2 linked regions of the Homo sapiens genome follow. The protein of the gene in region 1 purifies or fractionates together with the protein of each later gene. This does not show direct contact. Each region holds a gene or a part of one and is shown on either strand. Other genes may lie near its edges.

The links. The genes of interacting proteins can lie anywhere in the genome.
Region 2: the proteins of TASL (region 1) and SLC25A31 purify together in Homo sapiens (affinity purification with mass spectrometry; one large-scale study listed by BioGRID and IntAct). This does not show direct contact.

The regions. Positions count from the first base shown.
Region 1 is NC_000023.11:30,567,298-30,571,569, forward strand, and holds part of TASL (TLR adapter interacting with SLC15A4 on the lysosome), read right to left. Parts: intron 1-4,272. UniProt on the Homo sapiens protein: Innate immune adapter that mediates the recruitment and activation of IRF5 downstream of endolysosomal toll-like receptors TLR7, TLR8 and TLR9.
Region 2 is NC_000004.12:127,771,211-127,774,792, reverse strand, and holds the end of SLC25A31 (ADP/ATP translocase 4), read right to left. Parts: intron 2,150-3,582; coding exon of another isoform or gene 2,098-2,149; intron 1,408-2,097; coding exon 1,219-1,407; 3' UTR 501-1,218; downstream 1-500. UniProt on the Homo sapiens protein: ADP:ATP antiporter that mediates import of ADP into the mitochondrial matrix for ATP synthesis, and export of ATP out to fuel the cell.

The sequences.
Region 1 (4,272 bases):
GAAAGTTGTGTTGTGAAAAAACAAAGCAAAACAAAAACAACCCATGGTCTACTATATGGCTGAGTTATAAATAGCTTTTATATAGTCATGATAATATAGCACATGATAATATAAAGCACTGAAAATAGATCTAACTCAATTTAAAATATAACCACAGGGTGACCATGAAGTCAGTACACAAAGATAAAATATTTTTATCATATATGGCAGAATATCATGTATATATAAAATACTATTTTAATGTACATATAGTACAGTGATACCAATAAAAATCATCCTAGGCATTTGCCTGTGAGTCCAGACTAGGCGGCCACTCTGTATAGTGAGAGGAAGGGGACAAAGTTGTATATGCTTGGTGAAGCCAGGGGAGGAAGGAGAAATAAATCCTCCTCTTCATGATGACAAGTCAAGAAATAATGCCCCAAACTGAAAAATCCAAAAGTTGCAACACAGCATGCTATTTAAAGAAATGATGGTAAATATCAAGTAATTAGTTAAGGGAGATAAAAGTAGTTGCTTCTGGAAAAGGAGTCAAGGACAGCAGTTTTTCATAACAAATTTCTCAGAATTATTTGACCCAATTTATGTGCAAGTATAACTGTGATTAAATTTTTAATTAAAATAAAAACTAAAGATAAATATTTTAAAGTAACTAAGGGCCAGGTACGGTGGCTCACACCTGTAATCCCAGCACTTTGGGAGGCCAAGGAGGGCGGATCACCTGAGGTCAGGAGTTAGAGACCAGCCTGGCCAATATGATGAAACCCCATCTCTACTAAAAAATACATAAATTAGCCGGGCGTGGTGGCAGACGCCTGTAATCCCAGCTACTCAGGAGGCTGAGGCAGGAGAATCACTTGAACTGGGGAGGCGGAGGTTGCAGTGAGTCGAGATCGTGCCACTGCACTCCAGCCTGGATGACAGAGTGAGGCTCTGTCTCAAATAAATAAATAAATAGTAACTAAGGGGGTGGGGGGAGAAGAAGATGGCATTTCCTGTACAGCTGTTTGTGGTTAAAGATATTGCATATTCTAAGGGTGAAGAAGAGAGAGAGATGACTGTGTGACAGGTTAACCTTTATTTGGCCCTACAGACAGAAAGGATTCCAATGGCAGTGAAAAGAGGGAAAACATTGCAGACAGAGGAGAGAAGGGCAATAAAAGTGAAGAGGTTTGTGTTGTCAATTTCATGTGGGTCAGTAACAGACACCAATGTAGGTGGGGCGCAAGCATTGTTTGTCAGTGTCATGCTCACCTAAGAGCCTTTCTTGAAATGTCCCAGTTTGCCGAATCCCCCCTTTAGGACCCCTTATCCCCATTCAGACACACTCCAAGTCTCCCACTATTTATCTTATTTTTCTTCATATTAAACAATCAACCCTAACAGAGTCTTCTTTCATTGTATGCAGATGAGTTTTATAAGTACTCCTGATAATCTCCACACTCCTTCATAACAATGAAGGAAAAGGGCCTAGAATTTTATTTTGAGTACAGTAATGGGCCCCTTTTCCTATTGGTTGTCAACTGAGAGGTTTGCTGGTATCTTAATTCTGGCAGAATAAGAACCCTATCATTCTGATGTGTAGGACCCAAGACAGACCAGTAAAGTGGTGGGTCTGATGACGGAAAAACAGAAAGTGCATCCTAGTGTCTAGGGATAGACACGTCCCCAGCAAAAAAAAAAAAAAAAGGAAAAAAGATTTCTGAGAGGGAGGAGTGGGAGATAAGGTCAGGTCAGGGAGGTAAGTTGGGACATCCAAGACTGAGTACATTTGATTCATCCTGTAGGCACTGCAACGTTCTGGCAGGTAAGGAAGCTGATTCACCACATGATATAATATGGCAATAAAGTGCAAAATTAATTTCAGCAGAGTGAGATTGGTATTAAGGACCCAAGTTAGGAGGCTGTTGGATTCATCCCAGCCTGAGATGACTGGGACAGGAACCAGGAGGGAGGTAGGAGAAAAGAAAGAGAAGGAATGCATTTGAGAGACCAAGACCCCCAGACATGGAAGTGAAGGAGAGAGAGGAGCCAAAAGTAACTCTGAGTGTGGGTATGTAGGGGAAATGGCACCATCATTGACCAAAATGGGAAGATCAGGAGGAGCTGTGGAGGAAGCAATGGGTTTAGCTTAGCTCTTCTTGAGCCTGACAAGAGATAGACTGTCTGGGTGCAAGTGTGTAATTGTCCATTGGAAATTCAGGTAGGCAGCTCATTAGAGAAGCTACTTAAAGTCCACAGTGAAGTCACCTTCCACTTGCAGGCAGTAGGAATTTATATTGGGGGCTTGAGGAGCTTTCTAGGTTTGTAACTTCTTCTATGGGGAGCCTACCTGGAACAGTACAAGGAGGAAGGAGCAGCAGCAAGGGCTTTGTAAAGACTACAAGAGCTTTGGATGCATTGAACAAGTCACATTTTAAAAATCTATATTCGGGCCGGGCACGGTGGCTCACACCTATAATCCCAGCACTTTGGGAGGCCGAGGTGGATGGATCACAAGGTCAGGAGTTCGAGACCATCCTGGCCAACATGGTGAAACCCCGTCTCTACTAAAAATACAAAAATTAGCTGGGGGTAGTGGCGTGTGCCTATAATCCCAGCTGCTCGGGAGGCTGAGGCAGGAGAATCACTTGAACCCAGGAGGTGGAGATTGGAGATTGCAGTGAGCCCAGATAGCGCCACTGCACTCCAGCCTGGCGACAGAGCAAGACTCTGTCTAAAAAGAAAAAAAAAAATCTATATTTGAAGGCAAAATTTAATTTCATACTCATTCAGGCAATATACATATGTGGTGTATATATATAAATATATGTATGTTACCTAGAACATCTCATCTACAAACGTCTTCCAGTGTCTTTTCCTTCACACTTAACAAATCATGGAGAATTGTATATATTTTATAAAATATATATGTGTGTGTACATAAATACTCTCTCTCTCACACACACACACACACACACACATATATATGAAGAGAAAGAGAGAGAGCACGCACTAGTATTTAAGAGACCAGAGTTCTCTGATCTTGTCACTAGCAGTGGTTTTAGTTTAGTTGTTGCCAGATCTATAAAATAGCTAACATAGTACTAGCTACAACCCAGATAATATTCTAAGTGCTTTTTATGTACTAAATTAATTGATCATCACAAAAAAACTCTAATATTTAGGTACTATTATTATGCTCATTTTACAGATGACAAAATTGAGTAGTGTCCAAAATCACCAGCAGTCAGGAAACAGAGCCCAAGTTCATGTTCTTAACCTCTCAGACACTCAACTTATCATCTGTAAATTGAGAATGTGGGATTAAATTATGTCTAGAGTACCATCAAACTTTAATTTTGAATGAGATTATGAAGAATAAAGTGAGCATTAATCAGAATCAAAATTAATTTCTGAAAATTAGCAGCAGAGGGCAGCAGAGAGCACACTAAGGAGGCTTTTAAAAGACCTTTCTAAAGCTATGCAGAGTAATAATACATAAAATTTATAAACAAAAATACATATATTAACACATTTAATCTTCATAATTAATTTCCTAGTTTAGGCCCTTTGCTTCAATTCATCTTCCACTTTAATGCACTTAAAAGGGCCCATTCAAGGCCGGGTGCAGTGGTTCACACCTATAATCCCAGCACTTTGGGAGGCCGAGGTGGGTGGATCACCTGAGGTCGGGAGTTCGAGACCAGCCTGACCAACATGGAGAAACCCCATTTCTACTAAAAATACAAAATTAGTCTGGCGTGGTGGCACATGCCTGTAATCCCAGCTACTCGGGAGGCTGAGGCAGGAGAATCGCTTGAACCCGGGAGGTGGAGGTTGTGGTGAGCTGAGATTGCGCCACTGCATTCCAGCCTGAACAACAAGAGCAAAATTTAGTCTCAGAAAAAGAAAGAAAGAAGGAAAGAAAGAAGGAAAGAAGGAAAGAAGGAAGGAAGGAAGGAAAAAGAGAAAGAAAGAGAAAGAAAGAAAGAAAGAAAGAAAGAAAGAAAGAAAGAAAGAAAGAAAGAAAGAAAGAAAGAAAGAAAGAAACCCATTTGGCCAGGCGTGGTGGCTCACGCCTGTAATCTCAACACTTTGGGAGGCCAAGGCAGGTGGATCACCTCAGGTCAGGAGTTTGAGACCAGCCTGGCCAACATGACAAAACCCCATCTTTACTAAAAATACAAAAAATTAGCAGGGCGTGGTGGTGCATGCCTGTAATCCCAGCTACTCAGGAGGCTGAGGCAGGAGAATCGCTTGAATGGGGTGGGGTCATGGGCAGAGGTTGCA
Region 2 (3,582 bases), on another chromosome or scaffold:
AACCATCTTTCTTTGAACCATTTGATAGTGCAGCAGGAAAGGAAAATATTTTCTATTTTGTTCCTGTAACTCCATTATGTTGACCACTGCAAGAAATGATGTTTAGAGTTTGACTTTTTTTCCTCTTGAGGGATAACACCAATATATTTAAAAGTATGGTCTGTATTATTGTCCTTGAAATACGCTTTGTCCCTGTGCATAAGGAAGTTCCTCCACCCCATTTTGCCCATTCACAGCCTCAGAAAATCCGTCTATAGTTTATCCCCACTAGCTTAACATCCCTTTACTCATTAGAACGTTAAAAACTTGGGGATTTCAAATATACTGTATTCTACAACAGCTCTGAAAAACAAGACAAACTCCCGTACAAAACCTTGGAATGCTGTTTATATCTGTCCATTGAGAAATACCTCTCTCTTTAGTTAAGCCAGTTCTGACAAAAATTTTGCTATACTCTGCTTACTAATAAAGTCAGAGTCAGGGAAAAAAAGACTCCTTTATAACAGTTAAGCTTCCTTTATTGTCAACAAAATATACAAACTAATTTTCAAGAGGATACCTTTTGTTCTAAGATATATTCACACTAGCAAGATTTTATTTATTTTAAAGATAAACATCAGCAGATAAGCCATTTTATTTTCCAGTTTCAGTTTTATAATGTCACTAAAGTCATTATCAAATTTTAAATGATCACATCTATAATCAAAGGCTGATACTGTAAATATTATACACAGTAATAACAACTGTCTTAGAAGAGATATAGAACAAAGCTTATTTCTGCCTACACATATGATGACATCTATTGATAAGCTTTTAAGAAATATGTCATACCATATGACTTCAAAAGATGGGAAAACAGGTATATTAAATGAATAGCAATTTAAAAGACGCTACTTTCATTTCCTAGATTTCAGCATTAATCTAGGATTATATGATTAATTTTTAATCATAAAAAGAATTTTAAACTAACAAATTAAAATATACTACCTATAATAAATGAAATATCACACTAAAATGTGTTTGAGTCTAAGTGGGAGGAAAATCCACATTTATCTGATTTTTAGTATTTAAATTCTTGAAAAAATGTATGCTTTATTGCAGAACTAGCACTTTAACAAAATACAGACAATAACACTATCAAAATGTATGCAAATGGCAGCTATGTAATTTGTATGTTTAACAAGTTAAATCCATGTATTTCTTAATTTACTCTCCCGATTACCTACCACCAATATCAATATGAAAGAATTCTTTAATTTTATCATATAATACCAACACCAAAGCACCCCCTGTACCGCGAAGAACATTGGAGAAGGCGCCACGAAAAAAGGAACTGATTCCTTCATGTTGGTATATCTTCACAAAGCAGTCTAAGGTTCCTTTATATTGCCGTTTAGCCTCACCACTCTATACAAAGAAAAACAAAGGGTTTTCCATTATCTGAATATCTTTTATCTTAAGACAGTCTTCTATTAGCACTAAGGATAGATAAGATAAACACTGTGTTGAGTAGCACTGTGTTAATAGGCATATATGGCTACTGTCCCTGGTGGTTAGAGAACATTCATACTTTTCAGGCACACTTGAAAACTGACCATACATTAGGCGTTAACAAATGTCAAAGGATGTCATCACATAGACCATGATTTATCCTCTCACAGCACTGCAATTAACTGAGAAATCAATAGCAAAATAGAAAAATACCATATGGGCTAGGCATGGTGGCTCATGCCTGTAATCTCAGCACTTTGGGAGGCCGAGACAGGAAGATCGCTTGAGCCCAAGAGTTTGAGACCACCCTGGGCAATATGGAAAAATGCCATCTCAACAAAAAATACAAAAAATTAGCTGGGTGTGCTGGCACATGCCTGTGGTCCCAGCTACCCGGGAGGCTGAAGTGGGAGGATCACCTGAGCCTGGGAGGTCAAAGTTGCAGTGAGCCATGATCACACCATTGCACTCTAGCCTAAGTGACAGGGTAAGACCCTGTCTCAAAAAAAAAAAAAGAAAAAAAAAAAGAAATCATATGTTGGGATGTTAAGAACACTTCTTCTCAGAAAATACTGAAAACCAAATGATAATTACAAAACCTCTTACCTAAATTTTTAAGATGCAGCTTCGAGTTGTAATTTATAAGGAAATTAATGACCTTGAAATATTAGAAAAGGCTAAAAGTTAATGAGCAACCTAAACATTTTTAGACAAAGTATAAACCTAAAGAAAGTAAAAACAAGAAAATAACTGGCAGAAATAAAGGAAATAGAAAACACACACAACAGCACAAAAAAAGTCCAGTTAGGTCTTTGAAATACTTTGCTGACAGAGTTTGGAAATATTGTTTGAGGAAAAAAGAGAAAAGGCCCCAAGATTATCAGAAATGGCAACGGTAACAAAAATGCAGATGATCCAGAAATTTAAGAGCAAGATGATGTCATAAAAAACTTCATGACAATTATTTTTAAGTCATAAGAAATGGATAAATTCCTAGAAAAGTATAATTTACCAACAGAGTAGAAAAGAACTGGAATAATACTATAGTTGTTAAAAATTCAATCAGTTGTTGAATATCTTCTCATAAAGAAAACCACATGTCCAAAAGGCTTTACATGTGAGTTCTGCTAAACATTCAATGAACGTTTAATTCCAATCTTTCAGAAATTATTCTAGAGGAGAGAAAAAGTGGGATGACTCCTCAACGTATTTTATGAGGCTTGCACAGACTTGCTACTGAAGTCATACTAGAGCAATACAAGAAGGAAAAATACAAGCCAGTGTCATTAAACATGGATGCAAAAATCCTGAACAAAACCCAGCAATCAAATCTAGCAAGTGCTACAGAATACAATACTTGCAAACTGGGTTTATCCCAGGCATACAAGAGTTAGCTCTAGAAAACAGATTAATTTAACACAATATGTAAACATATTAAAAGAAAAAAAGGTTTAATCATCTCAGCAGATACAGAAAGAACATGACTGCCATTCATAATTAAAAATTGTTGTAATCCAGGAACAGAAAGGAACTGTCATTACATGATAAATGATAATGACAAAAAACCCCCACAGTTAATATTAAATTATGTAACACTGACGTCATTTTCTGTATGATTAGGAACAAGATAAGGTTGCCAGTTACTACTTTGTAAATATAACACTGAATCCGGGGTCTCAGTGAGTACAGAAAGGCAAGAAAGAGAAATAAAAGGTGTAAGAATTGATAAGGAAGGAAGAAAACACTGATATTAGTTGCAGATTATATGCCTGTTCATGTAAATAAAAATTTGGAAGGTATGTACATACACATTCGTGTTTGTAATAGGGTTAACAAAGTTGTGGGATGTAAAATGAAATACACAAAAATTAAGTAGTACTGTTATGGGCTGAATTGTTAAAATCATATATTGAAATCCTAATAACTCCCAGTACCTCAGAATGTGACTGTATTTGGAGATAGGGTCTTTAAAGGTAATTAGAATTAAATGAGATCACAAGAGTGAACCCTAAGCCAATATGACTGTCCTTATAAAAAGGGGAACAGGCCAGACGTGGTGGTTCAGGCCTGTAATCCTACCACTTCGGGAGG